5 linked regions of the Homo sapiens genome follow. The protein of the gene in region 3 purifies or fractionates together with the protein of the main gene of each other region. This does not show direct contact. Each region holds a gene or a part of one and is shown on either strand. Other genes may lie near its edges. The genes, in order: UBR7, SERPINB1, CELA3B, TIMP3 and BCAT2.

The links.
Region 1: the proteins of CELA3B (region 3) and UBR7 purify together in Homo sapiens (affinity purification with mass spectrometry; one large-scale study listed by BioGRID and IntAct). This does not show direct contact.
Region 2: the proteins of CELA3B (region 3) and SERPINB1 purify together in Homo sapiens (affinity purification with mass spectrometry; one large-scale study listed by BioGRID and IntAct). This does not show direct contact.
Region 4: the proteins of CELA3B (region 3) and TIMP3 purify together in Homo sapiens (affinity purification with mass spectrometry; one large-scale study listed by BioGRID and IntAct). This does not show direct contact.
Region 5: the proteins of CELA3B (region 3) and BCAT2 purify together in Homo sapiens (affinity purification with mass spectrometry; one large-scale study listed by BioGRID and IntAct). This does not show direct contact.

What each region holds. Positions count from the first base shown.
Region 1 is NC_000014.9:93,210,256-93,214,941, reverse strand, and holds part of UBR7 (putative E3 ubiquitin-protein ligase UBR7), read right to left. Parts: intron 4,295-4,686; coding exon 4,234-4,294; intron 2,911-4,233; coding exon 2,815-2,910; intron 14-2,814; coding exon 1-13. UniProt on the Homo sapiens protein: E3 ubiquitin-protein ligase which is a component of the N-end rule pathway. Recognizes and binds to proteins bearing specific N-terminal residues that are destabilizing according to the N-end rule, leading to their ubiquitination and subsequent degradation.
Region 2 is NC_000006.12:2,834,570-2,839,255, forward strand, and holds part of SERPINB1 (leukocyte elastase inhibitor), read right to left. Parts: intron 4,118-4,686; coding exon 3,980-4,117; intron 3,431-3,979; coding exon 3,313-3,430; intron 1,682-3,312; coding exon 1,539-1,681; intron 1,455-1,538; coding exon 1,287-1,454; intron 1-1,286.
Region 3 is NC_000001.11:21,986,697-21,990,715, reverse strand, and holds the end of CELA3B (chymotrypsin-like elastase family member 3B preproprotein), read right to left. Parts: intron 1,455-4,019; coding exon 1,437-1,454; 3' UTR 1,362-1,436; downstream 1-1,361. UniProt on the Homo sapiens protein: Efficient protease with alanine specificity but only little elastolytic activity.
Region 4 is NC_000022.11:32,807,435-32,812,120, reverse strand, and holds part of TIMP3 (metalloproteinase inhibitor 3 precursor), read right to left. Parts: intron 806-4,686; exon of another isoform or gene 1-805.
Region 5 is NC_000019.10:48,807,780-48,813,131, reverse strand, and holds the start of BCAT2 (branched-chain-amino-acid aminotransferase, mitochondrial isoform a precursor), read left to right. Parts: upstream 1-2,102; 5' UTR 2,103-2,124; coding exon 2,125-2,148; intron 2,149-2,294; exon of another isoform or gene 2,295-2,788; intron 2,789-4,895; exon of another isoform or gene 4,896-5,352. UniProt on the Homo sapiens protein: Catalyzes the first reaction in the catabolism of the essential branched chain amino acids leucine, isoleucine, and valine. May also function as a transporter of branched chain alpha-keto acids.

The sequences.
Region 1 (4,686 bases), on a different chromosome or scaffold from region 3:
TCTCATCTGGAATCTAACAGAGAAAAGCAGTTTGTTAAGGATTACATTGAATTCGGGAACATGGAAATAACCTGGCACACAGTAAAATAAGATACTAAATATTTGTTCTACATGAACTGGTGTTCCAAAGGCTTACATTGAGATAAGCACTTTACAAACAATCTCAAGGCTCTTTCACATCCATTACTTAATATCTGATTCTCACAAAACTGTGTAGACAAGGAGGGCATTCCCATTTTATACAAAACTCAGGCCCAGGCAAGTAATGTGAATGGACCAGTGCAGACAGTGACAACTGGGACTTTTTACCACACCATCCTTTAATACAATATTCAGTTGTATTACTGTATAAGGATGTTCACTCCAGCCTTCTTTATAATATTGAAAAATTAGACAATGCCTTTCTGCTGCAGAAGAACCATCCTGCCAAGTACACTGAAAAGTAAATGTTATGAAAAACCTCGATAGATAACTCCTCTAATTTGAATAAATTAAATAATTAAATGCTGGCCCTAGGAAAATAATATACCAAAGGACATAGACTATTTTGGGGATGATTTTCTTTTACTCCCAGGCTCTCATAACTGTTAATTAACATCCCAATGTTGTTCTGTCCTTTTCCTATCGTAGGCTTCTTAAAGGGAATAAAAAAGCACATATTGTGGAACAGGAGGAGCTGTAACACTTTACCACATGCCTTAAAATATCCAGTTTTGGCTGGGCGTGGTGGCTCACGCCTATAATCCCAGCACTTTGGAAGGCCAAGGTGGGTGGATCGCCTGAGGTCAGAAGTTTAAGACTAGCCTGGCCAACATGCTGAAATCCTGTCTCTACTAAAAATACACAAATTAGCCGGGCATGGTGGCGAGTGCCTGTAATCCCAGCTACTCAGGAGGCTGAGGCAGAAGAATCGCTTGGACCTGGGAGGCAGAGGTTGCAGTGAGCTGAGATCGCACTACTGTACTCCAGCCTGGGTGACAGAGCGAAACTCCGTCTTAAAAAAAAGAAAAAAAAAATCCAGTTTTAAGGTTTTATTTTTGTTAACTCAAAGAGACTTTCAATCTGTCCCTCTATATAATTTGGTTCAATAATTATAGTTCCAACGCAATTAGAAAGCAAGGAAGAAGGCAGAAGACTAATATCTCTAAAGACAAAAAGTACTCTTTCAAATCGGTAAATACCCAGACAAAACCCAAACCAATCAAAACATGGACTGAGGATATGAAAGGACAATTCAGAGAGAAGGTTATTATGGATGTCCAATGAACTTATGAAAAGATGCATAACCTCACTTATCATCAGGGAAAGAAAAAAAAATTTAAGATACTATTCTTTGGCTGGGCGCGGTGGCTCACGCCTGTAATCCCAGCACTTTGGGAGCCCGAGGCAGGCGGATCATGAGGTCAGGAGATTGAGACCATCCTGGCTAACACGGTGAAACCCTGACTCTACTAAAATTACAAAAAATTAGCTGGGCGTGGTGGCGGGCACCTGTAGTCCCAGCTACTCAGGAGGCTGAGGCAGGAGAATGGCATGAACCCGGGAGGTGGAACTTGCAGTGAGCCGAGATCGCGCCACTGCATTCCAGCCTGGGTGACAGAGCGAGACTCCGTCTGAAAAAAAAAATGAAAAAAAAGATACTATTCTTCATTTATCAGAATGGCAAAATTTTCAAGAACTGGTAATATGCAAGGTTGACAAAAGTGTTGGGGAAAAAACACTATCATATACTGTTGCTGGTACAACTTTTTTGGCAGATATGATCACAATTTTATTTTATTATTTATTATGATTATTATTTTTTGAGACAGGGTCTCGCTCTGTCACCCAGGCTGGAGTGCAGTGCCGCAATCCCAGCTTACTGCAACCTCTGCCCCATGGGTTCAAGTGATTCTTGTGTCTCAGCCTCCCGCGTAGCCAGGACTACAGGCATAAGCCACAGTGCCCAGCCAATCACAATTTTAAATGCCACAAATACACTTTGATCCGTCAATTATACCGATCCATTCTACATAAATACTTGGAGTATACTCAGTTGTATTACTGTATGAGGATGTTCACTCTAGCTTTCTTTATAATATTGAAAAATTACACAATGCCATTCTGCTGTAGAAGAACAATCAGGTTGACTAACTTATGGCATATGAAATTATAGGATACTCTGCAGCAGTTAGAAGGGGGTAAGTGTGTTTTGTTGACATGAAAGAATGTCTATGATATACTGGTGAGAAAAGCCAGCTGCAGAAGTGAGTGTACAGAATTTTCACTTCTGTTAATAGAAAGGAAACTACACATTGAAACACACATTCACTCAAACACTTCTATGTGCACAGAAAAAGGACTAAAAATATACACACCAAAAGTGTTAACAGTGGTTATGCCTGGGAGGTAAGAGGTGCAGAAGTGAGGAAGAACTCGTTTTGAATTTTGCATATACTTCTCATTGACGTTTTTAAGAGGATGCTGTTTGTATACCCCATTTTTTTCCGTAAAGAGACAAAAGAAGTTGAAGGTCATTTCTTAGAAAGTGTTTGGGGACTGGGGGAGGCAGTCAGGGAAGGAGAGGAAGGGAAGAAGCTCTGGCTTTGGGAAAGTCCTCTCCAATATTTCATTCTTATGATGTAAAAATGAAAAGAATGGTTGAGATGTGTACCAATTATAGATCCAACCCAGATTCATAAGAAAAGATAAATCTAGAGCCCTTTCACCATCCCACACTGCCTCTTGAAGAGCCAGAGGCTCGGATATGACAAGCAGTTGAGGAATCAAGGCTAGAGGGGACACACCCCCAGGTTTAACTTCCAATTCTCTTACCTCGTCTTCAGGATCAGGATAAGGTCTCTTGCAAATGCAGTACAATCCAAAAAAGTTGTCATTGTACTTATTGCCAGAATTTACCTTTGCTTTGTCCTGAAATATAATATTGATTTCAATAATAATATGGTCTAATTTTAACTATAATTTCACACATTATAAAATTTATGCATTCAATACATTTCCACATTATTTCCCCCAAGAGGCTGATCTTTAATTTTCAAAGTAGGAAAAAAAAAACTCACTACCACTAAAGGGATACTTTTTTCAGGACACAGGGAAAAAATAATTTTTTTTTGTTTTTTTTTGTGGTAATTAGGAGAAATTAAATACACCTATTCAATAAAATGGAGATAAAAGTTAATCATAAATATTAATTATCAATCTATGTGAACTGATATTGGCCTGGAATTTCAAGGTACTTCTTTTTTCTTTTTGATAGAGATGGGGTCTCACTATGATGCCCAGGCTGGTCTGGGTTCAAGCCATTCTCCCACCTAGGCCTCCCAAAGTGTTGGGATTACAGGTATGAGCCACCACGCCCAGCCTTATTTATTGGTTTTTCTTTTTCTTTTTTTTTTGAGATGGAGTCTCGCTCTGTCGCCCAGGCTGGAGTGCGGTGGCACAATCTCGGGTAACTGCAACCTCCGCCTCCTGGGTTCAAGCGATTCTCCTGCCTCAGCCTCCCAAGTAGCTGGGATTACAGGCACGCACCACCATGCCCAGATAATTTTTTGTATTTTTAGTACGGGGGGGTTTCACCATGATGGCCAAGCTGGTTTTGAACTCCTGACCTCAAGTGATCCACCTGCCTCGGCCTCCCAAAGTGCTAGGATTACAGGTGTGAGCCACCGTGCCCGGCCTATTTATTGTTTTTGTTTGTTTGTTTTGAGATGGAGTCTTGCTCTGTTGCCAGCTGGAGTGCAGTGGCGCAATCTCGGCTCACTGCAACCTCCGCCTCCTGGGTTCAAGCAATTCTCCTGCCTCAGCCTCCCAAGTAGCTGACCGAGTAGATGACTGGGTGCCACCATGCCCAGCTAATTTTTGTATTTTTAGTAGAGACAGGGTTTCACCATGTTGGCCAGGATGGTCTCGATCTCTTGACCCTATTTATTGTTTTTAAGTCATATCCGCTGATTTAAAAGCCTCAGAGAATAAGTACAACCAATATAATTAAACCTGAATTACTTTCAAGTACATCTCTCCCCCAAACCTTTCATATTAATTACCATCTATCTTGTAGGCTCTCAACAGTTTATATAGTTTTTCTAACAAAGTAAAAAATGAAATGGCCATCTGCAAAGAATAAGCATAAGAACTTCTTTTTTTGGAAAATACAGGTATTTGTTTTTTTACCCACTCTGGCAAATATTAACCTCAGCTGCTCTAAATGCATTTATAGTTACAGTGCTTACTTACAGGAAGTAATTTGCATTCCAAATTTTTAAACTTGCTGTTTCCACAATCACAACGAAAATTTCTGAAAAAAGGAGGAAATAACAATTTTATTTTTCTTTTTACAAAATCCAATTTAAAATTTCTTCAAGCATTCAAGCACATAGTAAGACTTCACAATTCGGGAAATTAATATGTACAAAAGCAAATATTTATATCACATACAAACACACAAGTAAAATGATGGCAGGGAAAGATAAATGGTTTGAGTTTGTACCATATTATGTTTTTAAAGGCTCTAGAAACAACTCTCTCCAATTATATAAAATAATTACATTAAATTTCATTAGTGCTGGGCGAGGTGGCTCACGCCTGTAATCCCAGCACTTTGGGAGGCTGAGGCGGGCGGATCACGAGGTCAGGAGATCGAGACCATCCTGGCTAACTCGGTGAAACACCGTCTCTACTAAAAATACA
Region 2 (4,686 bases), on a different chromosome or scaffold from region 3:
CATCCATCCATTCATCCAGGGTTTACTAAACCCCTACCACAATGGATTACAGTGATAGGTCATGACAGCTGCTATTACTTCCAGGTTGAGTAGTGCTAGAAGAAATTTAAAATATTTCTTCTATTTAGTCTGAATCCCACTGAAGCTGAAGTAATATCTAATAACTTTAGCTCCTAGGTAAAAATTTTAAAGGCAGATTATGCACTGGAGCTAGTTCCTCATCTGAAATGTGATGTGGACATTACTTATATCTACCTTATAGATTGTTGAGAGCATTAAATGAAATGATGTATATAAAGTGCTTGGCCCATAGTGCTACATAAATGTCAGCTATTATCATTACTATTGTTATAGCTATTGGACTGGAATAGAACCATCACTCTACTTCTTCTAATGGTGCTGATAATTCCTTTTAAGAGGCTAGAGATTTTCACTTTACAATCAGAAAAAAAACTAATGCAAAAATACAACCAAAAGAAAGGCCACATTGATTGTTATACAATGTATTAAAAGTCTGTACATGCAAATGATTAACATTAGACCCCCTTCCTGATAGCAAGGATGATGAATAGGTGGATAGGGAGGAGACGGAGAGCACAGAGCAGGCTAGAGTCCCTACATATAATGGAAACCTCATGCAAAGATCATACTAGTAAATAGGCCTAACATGTCACATGAGGCTTTTTCTGTCTTGTACCCATTGAAAATTTAATTCACTATCTATATGAATTGTGATGAGAACAAACAGTGTAATAATAGAATTTTATAGTACGTGATGAAGATATATGCTACACTATTTGGGGCTTTTCAATCTTTTTCCTCAGTAAAACAATCCTCATCTTACTGTAATTTCCTCTAAAGCTAATTCAAGAGCCTTTCCATGAGCTGCCACTAACCAGTATTATATTTAGTATAGATCTTTAATGACCCCATCACAAGTGTCCACTGAAAGTAGCTGGCCATCTTTCTTGAAAAATGAAACGTTAGCCGGGCACAGTGGCTCACAGCTATAGTCCCAGCTACTCAGAAGGCTGAGGCAGGAGGATTGCTGGAAGCCAGGAGGTCAAGACCAGCCTAAACAACATAGTGAGACCTTGTCTCTATAAGTAAATTTAAAAAAAAATTAACTCTGGGCTTTAGTGTAGTAAGTGTTGATGGGCTACATTTACAAAGGAATGACAAACTACTGGAAAATGCACCATCAGTGAACACTTAACAAGCACCTACCTACCATGCGACACACACATGCAAGAGGAACCACAAAGCATGAAGCCCAGGAGCCATACCTTCTTCAGGCCCGTGGACTCGTCCTCAATGTCATCCGGCAGCAGGATGACCATGCTGAGCTCCTCGCCTTGGTAAGGCAGTTCCAGCACACGGCACTTAAGGTCCTCGATGTAGCCATATGCAAATTTTTTCTTCTGATACATCATTTTCACAGTTTTTCTGTCTTTCTGAACAGTTTTAAAAAATCACTGAAATTATTCTCTGCATTCTTTTAGAGCAATGCATGACTCTGTACAGTTACCTCACCTCACCTTATTCAATCTGAATGGTGCATTCGTCGTGGCTTCTTTCATGAATTTATCCTTCCAGTTTCCCTTGAAATAGATGGCATTTACTAGCACAAGTTTGGTCATGTTATCAACCATGCCCGAAGCCAACAGTTCCGGAATTTTTCCTAAAAAAAAATCAAGTTAGCGTAAAAAAAATCCAAATCGGAATTCCAAATTTGAACTGACAATATATTAGCACGGAAATGCAATTCAAATATATAATTTCTACTTAATTTTCATTTAACAAGATATTAACTTAGGAAAGCCCTACTCACTAACATGTCTCTACTTTAAGTATAACAACCTGTGGGGCAGACAGACCAGGATGACACACAAACTTCCCACAAGGACCTGACATTTTAAACAAGTCAAATGTGCCGAAAGACAAAAGACAGGAAAATTCTCCTTTTCTGGACTGTATGATAAACAATGAGCCTTATTTTGTAACAACCATTCTTTTTTAGAAAAAAAAAATTCTTAATGAAGATATCTTTAGTCATCAGTAAATCACTTCTTCAAATCGCTGAGTAGATGCCTACTCTCACAAAAAAAGGTTTAAACAATATCCAAAAGGCAGAACAAGACCAAGCATGGTGGCGCACACCTGCAGTCCCAGTGCTTTGGGAGGTGGAGATGAGAAGATTCCTTGAGCCCAGGAGGTCAAGGCTGCAGTGAGCCACGATCGCACCACTGCACTCAAGCCTGGGCGACAGAGCAAGACTCTGTCTCTTAAAAACAAAAAACAAACAAACAAACAAAAAAACCAGCAGAACATACTCCATGGAAATAAAGGTCACCTTCGTGACCATAAGTATGGCTGGGAACAATTCCCATAATGGAAGACAGGTCTTCTGGAGTGGGTTGACTAATACAGGGCTATGTAAGAAGAGAGATGTAGCAAAGAAATAAATTGCACCCTAAAAGCAAGTCAGTCCCCACCTACCACAACTTTTTTACTGGACAAGATGTTGGCAAAAAATTTACAACCACAGTAGTTTGTGAATATTGATTTCAGGTATTTCCATGAAATTCCAGGACATTTCTTTCCATATGAGTATTAGGTAATTTTTGGCAGGCTGAATTCTCCTCAAAATTTTAATTCCTTTTTTGCTGTATTCAGTGTTGGTTTTAACTTTATTTTTTATTTTTTATTATTTTTATTATTTTTTTTACGACGGAGTCTCGCTCTGTTGCCTAGGCTGGAGTACAGTGGCATGATCTCGGCTCACTGTAACCTTTACCTCCTGTGTTCGAGAGATTCTCCTGCCTCAGCCTCCAGAGTAGCTGGGATTACAGGTGTGTGCTACCACACCTGGCTAAATTTTTTGTATTTTTAGTAGAGACAGGGTTTCATCATGTTGGCCAAGCTGGTCTTGAACTCCTGACCTCAAATGATCCGCCCGCCTTGGGCTCCCAAAGTGCTGGGATTACAGGCATGAGCCACCGCGCCTGCCAATGTTGGTTTTAACTTTGAAATGCAACTTTAAAAGTTTTGGGGAGCTGATGAGAAAAAAGGATTTAGCTGCTTGAGTTAAATCATGTTTAAGTTTCCACTCTGGTGAACTTCGAACATGTGAGAGCTGTCCAGCAACGTGCAGTGCAGACTTCACGCACCGGCAGCGTCCTCTGACTGTAACCACGATGTGCGCCAGGACTGTGGGAGCTGGGGAGGGAATAACTGCAGGTAGGGAAGGCGGACTGAGGAAACGAATGACATGACCAGCGCATAATGATTCCATTCTGCCCAGGCTCTCACCTTCTGTCTGTCCTTTGACCCACTGGTTTATGGTCTTCCTTGCATCTTCAGAGGCATGCTGAAAATCCACACTGGCCAGGTCAGCACCATATGTTTTCTGAGTCGAAACCAAGAACTCCTATTAAAAAAAAGGAAAAGGAAATATATATATAACTCCTACTACATATAGAAATTGTTTTCTAAAATCCCAAAAAGCAACAGAAATTGTCCTAAAAGGCTACAATTCCATGTAACACAAAATTTCTAACTCTTATAGTTTTTCTTATAGTAGTAAAAATCATTTAACATTAAATTTACGATCTTAGCCACTTTTAACTGTGCATTCCAGTAGTGGTAAGCCTAACCCTTATACTGTTGTTGTTATATAGAAATTACCACTCTTTTCTGAACTTTGACTAAGATTTCACAAACACTGATTGTACTCTTGCTTCAGTAAAACCTCCAAGAGCTATCTTTTCACTAAAAAGACTGTAACACAAAATCACCATGTCAATTAAAGTTTGCATTCTGTCGTGTTTGCCTTCCATATTGTTTTTGCCATGTTTGCCTTCTGTATTGTTTTTCTGAAAGTTTACAAATATTAAAACTGACCTCCATGACTTGATTGTGCTGGAAAATATCTGCACTGTCTAGTGGGGTTTTAGAATGTGAAGGGCAAAGTACTTACAGGAAGGAAATTGTAAGTTTTCTCTCCATATAATCTATTAGCAAGTTTCAGAATATAAGACGCTCCACGTTTGTTGATATCAGCATTCAGACTCTGGAATCTTGAATGAACCTCTTCAACCGTGTTGAAATGGAAAGTCTAAAATAAAGAAAATCTTCTTTCTACAACCATTTATTTTGAAACTATAAAGTGATTCCTTGGTGTTTCCTTCTATCACATTAAATTAATGTGTTTTTATTACTAATTATTGATGATCCCAAACCCAATACTTTATTAATTTGTCATTGCAGAACAAACAATAGGAAATCCAAAATTTATGGCTTCGTGAGACAGAATGTTTACAACTTTACACATTGCTTTTACATCACTCTTTGTTACACTTGCAGTTCCACAAATGTGGGTGGTTAAGATACTAAATATTTATATATAAGTCTGCCTTTTCCAAAGAAAATAATAAATGGTATGTTCATATTTATATTCTGTATCAAATATAATTTTACTGAAAGTTCTCAGAAATAAGCAGTAAAAATAGGATTCATCCTCTATTCAGAACCACAAAGATAGTACAGACTGAAGCTTTTAAAATTTTATTACCCTATTAACATCAGTAACTCACTTATTTTAAAATAACTTCCTTAAACTTAACATTCTGGCAAAAGTTTAATTCCCCATGTATCAGTTACAAATCAAGAGGCCCTTTGTGGTTT
Region 3 (4,019 bases):
CATGTTTCCCAGGCTGGTCTCAAACTCGTGGGCTCAAGTGATCCACCCACCCTGGCCTCCCAAAGTGCTGGGATTACAAGTATGAACCACCAGGCCCAGCCAGACTCCCTTGTTTTATGTTGCTTTTGTCTGTGTAACAGCATTCTTTTTTTTTTTTAAGAAGGAGTTTCGAACTCGTGACCTCAGTTGATCTACCTGCCTCAGCCTCCCAAAGTGCTAGGATTACAAGCATGAGCTACTGCACCTGGCCAGCGTTCTTCCTTTCAAAACTCAACTGTTTGCTGGCTCTGGGCTCGTGCGCAGCATTGTGTGTACCTGTGTGTGTATACCTGTGTACCTGTGTGTGTGTCTTCTCCCCCCTTCAGTAAGGGCTCTTCCTAGGGTTGCCTGACTTGTCTCTGTTTTTCCAGCCCTGAACTTGCCACAAGGCAGGTACCTAATACATGTTTAATGAATGACCGTGATATGCTCATGACATGGTTAGGCTTTGTGTCCCCACCCAAATCTCACCTTGAATTGTAATCCCCATAATCGCCATGTGTCAAGGGAGAAGGTAATTGAATCATAGGGCGGTTCCCCCATGCTGTTCTCATGATAGTGAGTGAGTTCTCGCCAGATCTGATGGTTTTATAAGGGGCTCTTCCCCCTTTGCTAGGCAATTTTCCTTCCTGCCACCTTGTAAAGAAGGTCCCTTGCTTCCCCTTCATCTTCCACCATGATTTTAAGTTTCCTGAGGCCTCCCCAGCCATGCTGAACTGTGAGTCAATTACACTTCTTTCCTTTATAAACTACCCAGTCTCGGGCAGTTCTTTATAGCAGTATGAACACAGACTAAGAGAGCTATCTTTAAATAATGAGTCACTTCAGGGCAGGAACCATGTCTCCTTACCCCTCTGAGCCCTCCTTTAAAACAAGGAATAAGTGTTTGTTGAATGAATGAATAACCAAAGCCCCCAGCCCATCAGTGGAAGCAGATCACACATTGTCCTTCCCACTCTACCATGAGCCTGCTGAGGGGCTGGCAGGGTCTGTTTATCTGCAGATTTTTACCATGTTTATATGCCTGCATTGAAAAGCTACTGACTTATGTGCGACTATATACTAAGGCGACCAACTTGTCCCATTTTTCCTGGTACCTTCCCAGTTTTAGCATTAAATGTCCAGTGTCTTCACTCCTGAAGTTCCAGGCAAACCAGGATGGTCAGGTCACCGCACAGCAACTCCCTTCTCTCCCAGCATCATTTTTCCCTCATCTTCGTATGAAAGGGTTGGACCTGGTCCTGTCTCTGCATATGAGATCTAAGATTTTAGGAACAGGCCAGAGGGGAAGAGGTGAGTCAACAAAGAAAGAAAGATTCAACTTGGAATTTTCTGAGAGATCTTTATTCTTTATTCAGGATGTGGGATCGATCAGCACTGCCAGCTGGGCCTTGGTTCTAGTGGCTTGCTATGGTCTGGAAAAGTTGGGGGGGCAGACAGAATAGTCAATTTAGGAGCACAGGTTCTGGAGTCAGATGAAACTGGGTTCAACTTCCAGCCCTGCTGTGTGACCCTGGGAGAGGAATTGACCTCTCTGAGCCTCAGTTTCCTCCTCTATGTAGTAGGGATAATGATAGAACTTACCTCATGGGGGGGTTCTTGATTAAATTGTTAACTAAGGTTCTCTCTACAATGGCCAGCATGAATTTAGATGGGATGTGTGCATAGATATATATACATATATATGTGTGTGTGTGTATATATATACGTCTGTGTGTGTATATATATGTATGTATGTATGTATGTATATAAACAAAATATATATTTTTGGAGTTTTTTTTCTTTTTGAGACAGAGTCTCACTCTGTTGCCCAGGCTGGAGTGCAGTGGCACAATCTCAGCTCACCGCAACCTCCACCTCTTGGGTTCATGCCATTCTCCTGCCTCAGCCTCCCAAGTAGCTGGGACTACAGGCGTACGCCACCATGCCTGGCTAATTTTTGTATTTTTAGTAGAGACAGGGTTTCACCTTGTTAGCCAGGATGGTCTCAATCTCCTGACCTTGTGATCTGCCCACCTCAGCCTCCCAAAGTGGTGGGATTACAGGCATGAGCCACCATGCCCGGCTTTTTTTTTTTTTTTTTTTTAAGATGGAGTCTTGCTCTGTCGCCCAGGCTGGAGGGCAGTGGTGCAATCTTGGCTCACTGCAACTTCTGCCTCCCGAGTTCAAGCAATTCTTCTACCTCAGCCTCCCAAGTAGCTGAGATTACAGCCATGCAGCACCACGCCCAGCCAATTTTTTTATATTTTTGTAGAGACAGGATTTCACCATATTGGCCAGGCTGGTCTCGAACTCCTGACCTTATGATCTGCCTGCCTCGGCCTACCAAATTGCTGGGATTACAGGCATGAGCCACCGTGCCTGGCCTTATATATATATTTTTTTAACATGGGTCAGGGAACCAAGGGATTAAATGGTCTATAAATCATCACTGTTTTTTTGTTTGTTTGTTTGTTTTTGTTTTTGAGATGGAGTCTTGCTCTGTCACCCAGGCTGGAGTGCAGTGGCGTAATCTCGGCGCACTGCAACCTCCGCCTCCCAGATTCAAGCAGTTCTCCTGCCTCAGCCTCCTGAGTAGCTGGGACCACAGGCATGCACCAATACGCCCGGCTAATTTTTTGTATTCTTAGTAGAGATGGGGTTTCACCATGTCGGCCAGGCTGGTCTTGAACTCCTGACCTCAGGTGATCCATACGCCTCGGCCTCCCAGAGTGCTGGGATTACATGCATGAACCACTGTACTTGGCCAGAAATGTTTTTTTAATGGAAGCCTTCATGACTTTGCATGTCATCCTTGCGCAGGGGCCGTGCTAATCTCTATATCATTCCAATTTTAGTACATGTGCTGCCAAAGCAAGCACTACTGTTTTATTTTATTTAGTTTATTTTCATTTTTTTAAGAGAGAGGCTCTTGCTGTGTTGCCCAGGCTGGAGTACAGTGGCTATTCACAGGTGTGATCCTACTACTTTTCAGCATGTGAGTTTTGACCTGCTCTGTTTCTGACCTGGGACAGTTCACCCCTCCTTAGGCCACCTGGTGGTCCCCACTCCCAGGAGGTCACCACATGGATGCCAAACTTGGTGCAGAACCAGATGGGTATAGCGCACTATGGCCCAGAACTCCAGGGCTCAACCGATCCTCCTGCCTCAGCCTCCCAAGTAGCTGGGACTACAGGTGGGCATCACTGCACCCAGCTAGCTATTACTCTTTTTTTTTTTTTTTTTGAGACGGAGTCTCGCTCTGTCACCTAGGCTGCAGTGCAGTGGTATGATCTCGACTAACTGCAACCTCCGTCTCCCAGGTTCAAGCAGTTCTCTGCCTCAGCCTCCCGAGCAGCTGGGATTACAGGCACCCACCACCATGCCCGGCTAATTTTTGTATTTTTAGTAGAGACAGGGTTTCACCATCTTGGCCAGGCTGGTCTTGAACTCCTGACCTTGTGATCCACCTGCCTCTGCTTCCCAAAGTGCTGGGATTACTGGCATGACTACTCCATGCCCAGCTATTACTCTTTTTTTTTTTCTTTTTTTTTTTTGTTTAGCTATTACTGTTATCAGGAGTGTTATTAGTCCTCTCTGATCACCCATCCCCAGATGAAGTCTGGGGCCTGGACTCCCCTCTCTCGGCTCTCATCAGACTGCATCGTTCTCATTCATGTAATCACCTGTCCCCCACCAGGCAGCCTCTTGTCTGGCATGTCTCTCTATCCTCCCTGACAAGAGAGGACAAGACCAGAGGAGATACTTTATAAATACTTGTTGAAATAAGGAAGTTCAGCTGTAGTTCCAAGCACCACCCAGAAGCCATCAAGTTCCTGGGGTCACACTGTATCAGAAAACATCCCCAAGCCTTTCTGGAATGTCCCCAAGGGCCCTTCCCCACTGAGCTTCTAGGATCCTTTCAGGCCCTCCCCAGGATCCGATGTTTCTCACCTGTCACCTCTCAGAAGAGCCACCACCCTAAAGCCCTCCGGGCCGCC
Region 4 (4,686 bases), on a different chromosome or scaffold from region 3:
CTGTTTTACAGATAAGAGACCAAACCCAGGGAGGTCAGTATCACCAAGGGGACTCCAGAGTCAGATGATGAACTAGGACTAGACCTTAGGCCTCCTAACTCCAGCCAGTGCTCCTCCTCCATGCCACACTGCACCTCCTAGCCCTGGCAGTGGATAGGGGAGCGGTTGCTGACTCTTCAGCCAAGTTCATTGTCACCATTCCATTTCTAGGGCCCTCTCTTTGGCTACCCTAGTGACTTCTACCTCTGCTTATCAATGGGAGCTGTCTAAAGAGGGAAGGGCAGCACCAGATCCTTGACAAGTGTTGGGCTTGCCCTCAGAAGACATGGGTTCCAATCCCATTCCATGTATTGGCTATATGGCTAAGCCACAGAACCCCGCCATTCTCAATACTGACATCCACTAACTAGGAACTATGACCGACCCCCCAATCACCATCCTGCTTTCCTCGTTGCGAAGTTGTCATCAAATGAGATCAAATGGACTTAAGACTCTAAAATGTGAAGAGTTGTGAAAATAGAGTAGGAACTTTGTTGTTTCTTTCTCTGCCCTGTGGGAAGCACTGTGACAAAATGGAACACATTAGATTTGGAGGCGGGGGGATCAAACCACGATTTTGAATTGAAACTCAGCTCTCTCTATATGACCCTGGAAAACATCACATCACACCACAGAGCGCCATTTTCCTCACCGAAAGTGAAGTGAGAATATCAGCTCTGCTCTATAACAACACTACTACTAAAAGCTCATGCTTATTCTTATTGAGCTATTCTGTGCCAAGAATCAGTCTCTTGTATAGACTAAGGGCTACAACTTTTTAGACTTGGGAAGATTCTACCCATTTTGCGACCTCTCCACCTGAGTCTTTGGCTCCCCACTTTTGGGGCCCCCCTCAGTCTGCTTATCTTTGATTTTCTTCCTCTCCAGACATGCCTTCCCTGCTGCCCCCAAATTTTATTACCGTATAGTCAGTTCTGGGATCCTAACATAACCAAGCCTTACCTCCTAACCCAGTGCCCTTTCAACTGTCTCAGTGGTTCCCAGCCTTTTCAACACTAAGGAATATTTAGTGCTAAACATTCCATGAAGTATTTCACTTAATTGCCAATGAAGTTACCACGTGGTACATAATATATTTCCCCCCATTTTAGAGATGAGGAAACTGAGGCAAAGAACCTGCCCAAGCTTGGGAGTAGCAGAGCTCACTAGAGCTATCATGTTTCCAAATCGAAAAGGCAGGGAGCTTATTCATGATGATAAAGTCTAAGTCAAAAGGGAGCCCTTCCTAAATACATGAGATGCAAACACCTTAGTCAAACACCTCAAGTCACGAAACCAAGTCTTCATGAAATCTGACCCTGGTTGCGAAACTCACCATCCCCACATCCTAATCCAGGCATTGCAGGAGCTCTGAAGTTTCTGAATGAAACAGCTCTTCTCTGCAGGCAGCCAGGCGGCCCTGTGCCTGACACCCTCATGGGCAGAGGCAGAGGGGATAATTACCATGTAGTATTTAAGATCTCTAGTTCCGGAATGGCTCTTGGAGGCTTGGTCAGCTCAGGACTTCCCCTCTCCACTCCCCAGTACCCACCCCCCGCCCAATCATCTAGGGCTCTGTTTTTCCACTAACTGAACTTTACCTTGGGCTCTCTGAGGCCAGATCGTACAGCTTTCCTTCCCTTCCCCACCCCCACAAAAAGCCAGGTGGCTGCAGGCTTGGAAACACTTATAGTTTCTTGTCTCCAAGCCGTGAATGCCACCATTAGGTGATCGGATTTACATGAACATAAATCAGACTTGAGTGTTGGGTAGTGTGGACTGTCCCTTCTGTGACAGCAAAGCCATCCTAGCCACACAGATGGCCTCTAAATGGGTCAGGAAAGGTTCTCTGGGGCCCCTCTGAAGCTACAAACACTAATTTTTTAACAGCTGAACAAAAAGACCTCTTAGTTCCACTGCAGCCCACATAGACACCTGTGGGCCTCCTGTCAAACAGTATTTAGTAAGTCCCTTTAGCTAGAATCAATACTTTGTGTACCCCTGGATGCCAGACATGAACATAGGAAAATATCTGAACCCATGTCACCTCCTCTGAAAGGATAGGGACCTCAACTAGGACACATCAGTTACCTGCTGTCTATCCCAGGCATGGTGGCAGCACTGTGGGTAACAGGGAGAAGTGACAATGGCAGTAAATGCATGGGACCTGCCCACAGGGAGAAGAGATGCTAAGCTGGCATGAAACTAAAGATTCTCAGGAGGGGCAAAGGACAGCGATATACCAAAGAAGCCAGGAGCTATTTTAGGCATATCAGTAAGCCAACCCAAATCCGACAATGCAATCACCCAGGAACCCATGAGAAAACTTCCCAGGCTTATGAAAACACCAACCGTCCTTGCTTTCGGCTATAATTAATTAGTATATTAGCTGATTGTGTCAGAATAATGACTGGCTAGTATCAGCAGTTCTAGTTATATTTTAATTTGTTTTTTAATGGAAAGTTAATCAACACTCAACACATGAAATTGTGTCGGATAACTGTTCCAAACACAGAACTTATTGGAGGGAAAAATTAATTTTAAAAAATTCCATAGTGTTGAAAAGTCTGGGAACCACTGAGAGAGTTGAAAGGGCACTGGGTTAGGAGGTAAGGCTTGGTTATGTTAGGATCCCAGAACTGACTATACAGTAATAAAATTTGGGGGCAGCAGGGAAGGCATGTCTGGAGAGGAAGAAAACCAAAGATAAGCAGACTGACGGGGACCCCAACAGTGGGGAGCCAAAGACTCATGTGGAGAGGTCGCAAAATGGGTAGAATCTTCCCAAGTCTAAAAAGTTGTAGCCCTTGGTCTATATGAGAGACTGATTGGAAACACAGGTTTTGGAGATAGGCTAAGCAAGTATAGGTTGCAAGTGGTGTGAGCTTGGGCAAGCCATTTGGCTTCCCTAGCCTGAGACAGCTCATCAGGCAGCTGGGATGACTGATAGGCAAGTAAGGAGCTTGGTACAGTGCCTGGCACATAGTAAGGGCACCAAACTTACTATGAAAATTACAGTATTATGTTTGTGATCTCCTGCAGGGTTGGCATTTAGAAATCTCCACTTTCTTCTCTGGGAGGGTGCTAGGGTATCATGTCCACCAGAAGACAGGACTAGACTTATCAAGTAATGCAGAGAGCATAGTGGGTGCTTACCCTCTAAAGTGGGTTAGGTTTATCCCTCTGGGTGGCACGCAGCCCTAAGTTCTTTCTCCCAGCGCAGGAATGATCCCCTCTGGGAGTTTCCCATGCAGCTTTGGAGAATTTGGGTTTTACTAGAGATGGTGTTTTTCAGCATGCTTAAAATATGGGCAAGGTTTATGACTGTTCGTCTGTACCAATGCCAAGGAGTGATCAGGGAAAGGAACCAAAGGAGACCTAGAGAATGAGAAGTTAATGAGGACTGTTCAAAACCGAGGGGGTGTCATGGGCCAAGAGCCAGAGAGACAGAGTATGAACAGCTGGAGCAGGACAGACCAGTGATGAGACTATGAGGATGAGGTAGGCAGGGTCCACACTGGCCCTTGTAAAAGCCATTTGATGATACTTTATCCTAAGAGTCCACTGAAGAGCTTTCATCAGAACAGGAATTCTTTCCTAAACCAGGCCTTCTAGCTCCCATAATAATGAGACCCCAGCGTCCTTCTTGGCTGGGGTCCACCCAGCCTCCCTCTCGGCAGTCCATCCTCCTCCTTGTGACCATCCCACTGCTCTCACCCAAGTGCCATCCATAGGCAACAAGAAGGGAGACAGATGAGTGAGTGCCCTTGCTGCCACCATGAGCCTGGCCAGCGGACAGCTTTGAGTCAGAAAGCAAAACCCTGTGTATGTGTGTTCAAAACACAGCCACATATACCTTTGAACCTGAGTCCATGTAAGTCCTCAAAGTCAAACAACTTGGTGTAATAAATGGTCCACTGCTTATTCTGAAAGCAAAATAAATACATAAAGCTATCTTCAACCGAATTACTCCAGCATGCAACAAGTCAAGGGTCACAGCTTTCCTGGCATTGCAGCCTTCCTCTCCCTATGAAAATACTCCCATTAACTTGATCTTCGTGGCCCTAATTTTGCTCCCTTTCAAAGAGACAAAAAGAAGGAAAAAAAACACTCAGTAAGTCAATAAAAATTATAAATTGTTTTTCTATTTGAGAGAAGCATGGGAGTCTCTTAAGCACAGGGCTCTAACATTCCTCCATCCCCTCATGTTGCATATATGAAAAGAACTGTGTTAACACAGCCACTGTGGAGGCCAAATTGGCAGGAACTATTAAAATTGAAAATGCATATTATATAATTATAATAATATAAGAGTATGTAGTAGTATATATAATATGATATGGTATAATGTGACCTATAGTATAGTTGTTAAATATATTTTAGAGCCAGGGTGAAGGGGCTTAAATACAGGCTGTATTCCTTGCTAGCAGTATAACCTTAAACGAGTTACCTCATTTTTCTAAGCCTCAGTTTCCTCAGCTGTAAAATGGAGATGACAATAGCACACCTCCCTCATAAAACTGAGAGAATTAAATGAGTTAATGTAAGTTAATGACTTAGAATAATGCCTGGCACATAGTAATCACTCTATACTTATTAGCTGTTTAAAATTATAACCTCATGAAATACATAAAAGAAATATATATA
Region 5 (5,352 bases), on a different chromosome or scaffold from region 3:
ACCCCAAACTCCAACCTGTATCAGATGCAGCCCCCAAGCCCTTAGACTCTAAGCCCAGTTAGCAAGGTGCCGGGTCACCCTGCAGGTTCCCATAAAAACGATTTGCAGCCAGAAGGAGGAGGATATCGTTATATTTATTTCCCATCCTTTAGACGAGTCCTTCTGCCCCACTTAGCCCTTGCACCCCAGACCCACAAGTTGCCTCGACCCTGAAGGACTGCAGCTCCCCCCGCCCCCCAACCCCAGGCCTTGCAGCAAGCAGGTGCCTGATGTTGCTAGCCCTGTCGCTGTCGCCAGGGGCTCCTGGGAAGGGTAGAGCGGTTTGGCTTCACCAGCGCGCTAACTAAAGGCCCGCAGGGGAGAGTAAATTAAGCGCTAATTAGGAGGTAATGGAGGGGGAGACGCAGAAGGCCCTCTTACTCTTGGCCCTCAGGGAAAAGGAGTTTTCCTCTCACTGCCTGTAGAATAGGAAGGTGGCTGGCAAGAAAAGTCCAAAGGGAAGAGAAAGTAGGGGGTTGAGACATCTGGATCAGAGGGAGGAGGGGCTGAAACTCCTGGGTTTTGGTCCGCAGGGCACTGGGGGACGCAGACTCCCCAGCTGGACCCAGGGGGGGGGCAGGGCCCGGGTGCGCTGGCGTCCCCCAGGTGAGGGGTGGAGCTGCAGGGCTGCTGCGGATTGGCTGTGGCCGGGGGGGCGTGTGCACCAACCGCTGATTGGCCGCGGCGGGGGCGGGAGCTGTCAGTGGGCCCCGACCCTACAGCCCGGGGCTGGCGGGTGGGGCAGGAGGACTGGGGCGGAGCGCAGAAAAACAGGGCGACGCCCTGTGAGGGAAGGGTCCCGCGGTTTGGCTGTTTGGGCCTGTGGCTGTTAGGGGTGGCAGGATAGTGACCCGGGGACAGGACTTGGGGGCACTGTGGGGGTAGAATTTGGAGACAGAGTGTCCCAGGGTAGGATTGCCGAGACACGATGGCCGAGGGATACGATTTTTTTTTTTTTTTTTTAATTTGAGACGGAGTCTCACTCTGTCGCCCAGGCTGGAGTGCTGTGGTGCAATGTCGGCTCACTGCAACCTCCGCCTCCCGGGTTCAAGCGATTCTCCTGCCTCAGCCTCCCGAATAGCTGGGATTACAGGCCCCCGGCACCACGCTCGACTAATTTTTGTATTTTTATGTATTTATTTTTATTTATTTATTTATTTTGAGACGGAGTCTCACCCTGTCACCCAGGCTGGAAATGCAGTGGCGCGATCTCGGCTCACCGCAACGTCCGCCTCCAGGGTTCAAATGATTCTCCTGCCTCAGCCTCCCTAGTAGCTGGGATTACAGGCGCACACCACCACACCCGGCTAATTTTTGTATCTTTAGTAGAGACGGGGTTTCACCATGTTGGTCAGGCGGGTCTTGAACTCCTGACCTTGTGATCCGCCCACCTCGGCCTCCCAAAGTGCTGGGATTACAGGCGTAAGCCACCGTGCCTGGCCTTAATTTTTGTATTTTTAGTAGAGACGGGGTTTCCCCATGTCGGCCAGGCTGGTCTTGAACTCCTGGCCTCAGGTGATCCACCCGCCTTGGCCCCCAAAGTGCTGGGATTACAGGTGTGAGCCACCAAGCCAGGACTTTTTTTTTTTTTTTTTTTTGAGACGGAGTCTCACTCTGTCGCCCAGGCTGGAGTGCAGTGGCATCATCTCGGCTCACTGCAACCTCTGCCTCCCCGATTCAAGCAATTCTCCTGCCTCAGCTTTCCGAGTAGCTAAGATTACAGGCGCCCGCCACCACGCCCGGCTAATTTTTTGTATTTTTAGTAGAGACGGGGTTTCATCATGTTGGACCAGGCTGGTCTCTAACTCCTGACCTCAGGTAATCCGCCCGCTTCGGCCTCCCAAAGTGCTAAGATTACAGACCTGAGCCACTTCGCCTGGCAGGGACCGTATTTCAAGTCCTGCCCTCCCACCAGCGCCTGCGCCCCGCAGCAGTGTCCGGCTCCCTGCCGACGCCCTGGAGCTGGGACGGCCTGGGGCGCTGGTCGGCCGCCTTCCCCCAGAAGGAGGCGTGAGCGGGGCGTGGCCGGAACGTCTCTCTTCGGAGCCGCGCCCCGGGCGGGCACAGTTACGCGCCGCACGGATCATGGCCGCAGCCGCTCTGGGGCAGGTGGGTTCGCAGCCCCGCGCCGGGGTCTGGGAAATAACCGGGGGAGGCGCACTTCCGGGAAGACCACTGGCCTGCAGCCGGTCCGACTCGGCGCCGCTCCTCCCGCCCTGGGGTTCCGCTGCAGGGCGCGGAGGAGGATGGCGCCCTTTGGAAAGGAGCACGAGGCTTTAATGGGGTGAGGGGGAGCAGGTAGACGCGGATGAGGTGGGGCAAGTAATTGGCGGGGAGGTAAAAAAAAAAAAAAAAAGGGAAACATGGTGGAGGACCCTGTAATGAGGGAGGCGTGGGGGTGGGGAGGTTGTGATTTGGGGAGCGGAGCCCTGGGGTGCGGTGGGGCATCAGCCTGTGCGGGAGCTGGAATAAAGGGGCCCAGACCTCCAGGGCCGGGTGCAGGTGAAGGCAGAGTTGGACCTCAAGTCTCAGCTCTGGGAATTGGACTCAAGGTCCTATTTTCTTGGAATGAAAGTTGAAAAAAATAAGAGATGGGGATTGCTGTGCTTCCCAAACTCCTATCTGAAGCTTTGCACCTGGATTGGAAATCGAGGCAGCGTCTCATGGTCAAAGTGACAGATGCTGCAGGCTGGCTGAGACGATCCCTTCTGACTGTGCGATGTCAAACAGCAGCAGCGTTTCCCAGAGTCTATGATTTCAGAGAACAAGGTTTCTCAGTGAGGAAGGAAACAGCCAAAGAAAGGGGTCATTACAAGCCTTCACAGCTGCGGTGTAACCTTGGGAGAACTGTCTGTTAACTTTACACCTGACTTTATTTGAGTCTCTTATCCTAGCTGATGAATGTCAGGGCAGAATTTCACTTTTTTCGGCTCTTAGTGACTGATAGGGATAGTCCTGGGATACCTGGGGTATGTGGGCAATCTGGGCTTTAGTGGTGACACTCCTGGACTGTGGTGGGGCAGTACTGGGCTTTGACAGGTCCACTTGGGACTGATGTGGACCGTCTCATCATGGCACAGTTCTGGTGTCATAGAATGGCCCTGAACTCATGATGGGACATTCCTAGGCTCTGATGAAGATAGAGATATCCTGTAATGGAGATAATTGGGCTGAGTCCTCAGCTGTGATGGGGACAGTCCCGGGGTGTGGAGAGGACAGTGCTGGACCATGGTAGGGACAGTCTGGAAGGTACTGGCCTAGACAGCAACATAGGGATAGTCCTGGGGATTGAAAAAGACAACAATGGGATTTTTTTTTTTTTTTTAATTTCAGACCTGGTGAATAGGAAATAAGCCCTGATATTTGGCAGAGACAATGCTGGTTATAATGGGGAAAAGTGCTGGGCTTTGGATAGGGGACATTCCTGAGCTGTTTGGGACAGTACTTGGCTCTGCTGGGGACCAGTTCTGATAAGTTACAGGCACAATCTGGACTTGTGATGTGGAGCATCTTGGGCCATCATAGAACAGCCCTGGTCTGTGATGGGGGAGAGTCCTGGGCTATAAAGGGGGCAGTTCTAGACGTGATGGGGTCATGTGTGGGCTGTGACAAGGGCAGACTGCGGTATGATGGGGTCTCTCCGGGGCCGTGATATGGGGACAGTCCTGGAGTATGGAGGGCACTGCTGGGCTTTGACAGTGACACTCCTGGTCTTTGATGGTGATACTCCTGGGCTGTATGGGACATAATGGAGGTTCTATCACATTATAGAGACCTGCCCTGTGAACCCCCAAACGTACTTTATTTCTTTGTCTCGTCTTTTCTTTTTGACCGAGTCTTGCTCTGTTGCTCAGGCTGGAGTGCCGTGGCACGATCTCGGCTCACTGTAACCTCCGCCTCATGGGTTCAAGTGACTGTGGTGCCTCAGCCTCCCGAGTAGATGGGCTCAAGCGATCCACCTGCCTCAGATTACAGGCATGAGCCACCATGCTGGTCTTTTTTTTTTTTTTTTTTTTTTTTTTTTTTGAGAGACACTCTATCACTCATGCTGGAGTGTAGCAGTGTGATCGTAGCTCACCACAGCCTTGACCAGTAGGTCAAGGTGATCCTCCCACCTTAGCCTTCTGAGTAACTGGAATTACAGGTGTGTGCCACCATACCTGGCTAATTTTTAAATTGTTTGTAGAGACAGGGTCTTGCTATATTGCCCAGGCTGATCTTGAACTCCTGGCCTCATGCAGTCCTCCCACCTCTGTCTCCTAAAGTGCTGTGATTACAGGCATGAGCTACTGAGCCAGCTGCCTACTTTCTTTCTTTGTTTTTTTTCTTTTTAATTGAGACAGAGAGTCTTGCTCTGTCGCCCAGGCTGGAGTGCAGTGGCACCATCTCGGCTCACTGCAACCTCCGCCTCCTGGGTTTAAGCAATTCTCCTGCCTCAGCTTCCCAAGTTGCTGGGACTACAGGCGCCCGCCACCACACCCAGCTAACTTGTATTTTCTGTAGAGACAGGGTCTCCCTATGTTGCCCAGGCTGGTCTTGAACACCTGGCCTCAAGCTATCCTCCTGCCTCGGCCTCCCACAGTGCTGGGATTACAGGCGCGAGCCACTGCGTGTGGCCTCTTTCTATGATTAGATCTATTTTGGCATCTCTTGTTTCTTGGCGTCAATTTCTGTTTTTGTTTTTTTTTTTTTCTGTTTGTGCGCCCCTTTCTGTGTTTCTTTTTCTCATCCTTCCTCTTCCATCTCTTACTCTCTTTTTTTCATCTTGGCTCTGAGGGCAGCTCTCCTGCCCACAGGCTGGCTGTCGCACTGTGTTTGTGTCTCTCATACTGTGGGTGTCCTATCCCTCTGGGCAGAAGCATGGCTGCAAGGCTGAGCAGTCTAGATGTCGCCACCCAAAGGCAATCTGGGGACCCACGCTCTGATCACCCCGGAATCCCTGGAGCCTCACACCAGCAAGACCACGCTGCAGGCCCATCTCCCAGCAACTCACCTAGCGACAAGTGACCACGCCCATTCACGTCCATCTTCCAGAATCAGTGCCAACTCACCCAGCTCACAGGGCAGGCCAGGCCAGGCCACTCTGTCTCTCTCAACCTCACGCCCCAACGCCTCCCCACAGGGCTGGGGAAAGAGGCCTTGTGAGGTCAAAGGTCACCAGAGAGGGCCCAGCCTGCTGGACACAGCCAGACCTGCTCTTCCTACTCCCCTCTGGGAGGACCCGCCTGAGCCTCATGCAGTGAGGACTGCAGTGGCTCCCCAGGCCCCTGTAGCTGCCCCTCAGCCCCAGGGGCTGAAGGGAATTGGAGTCAC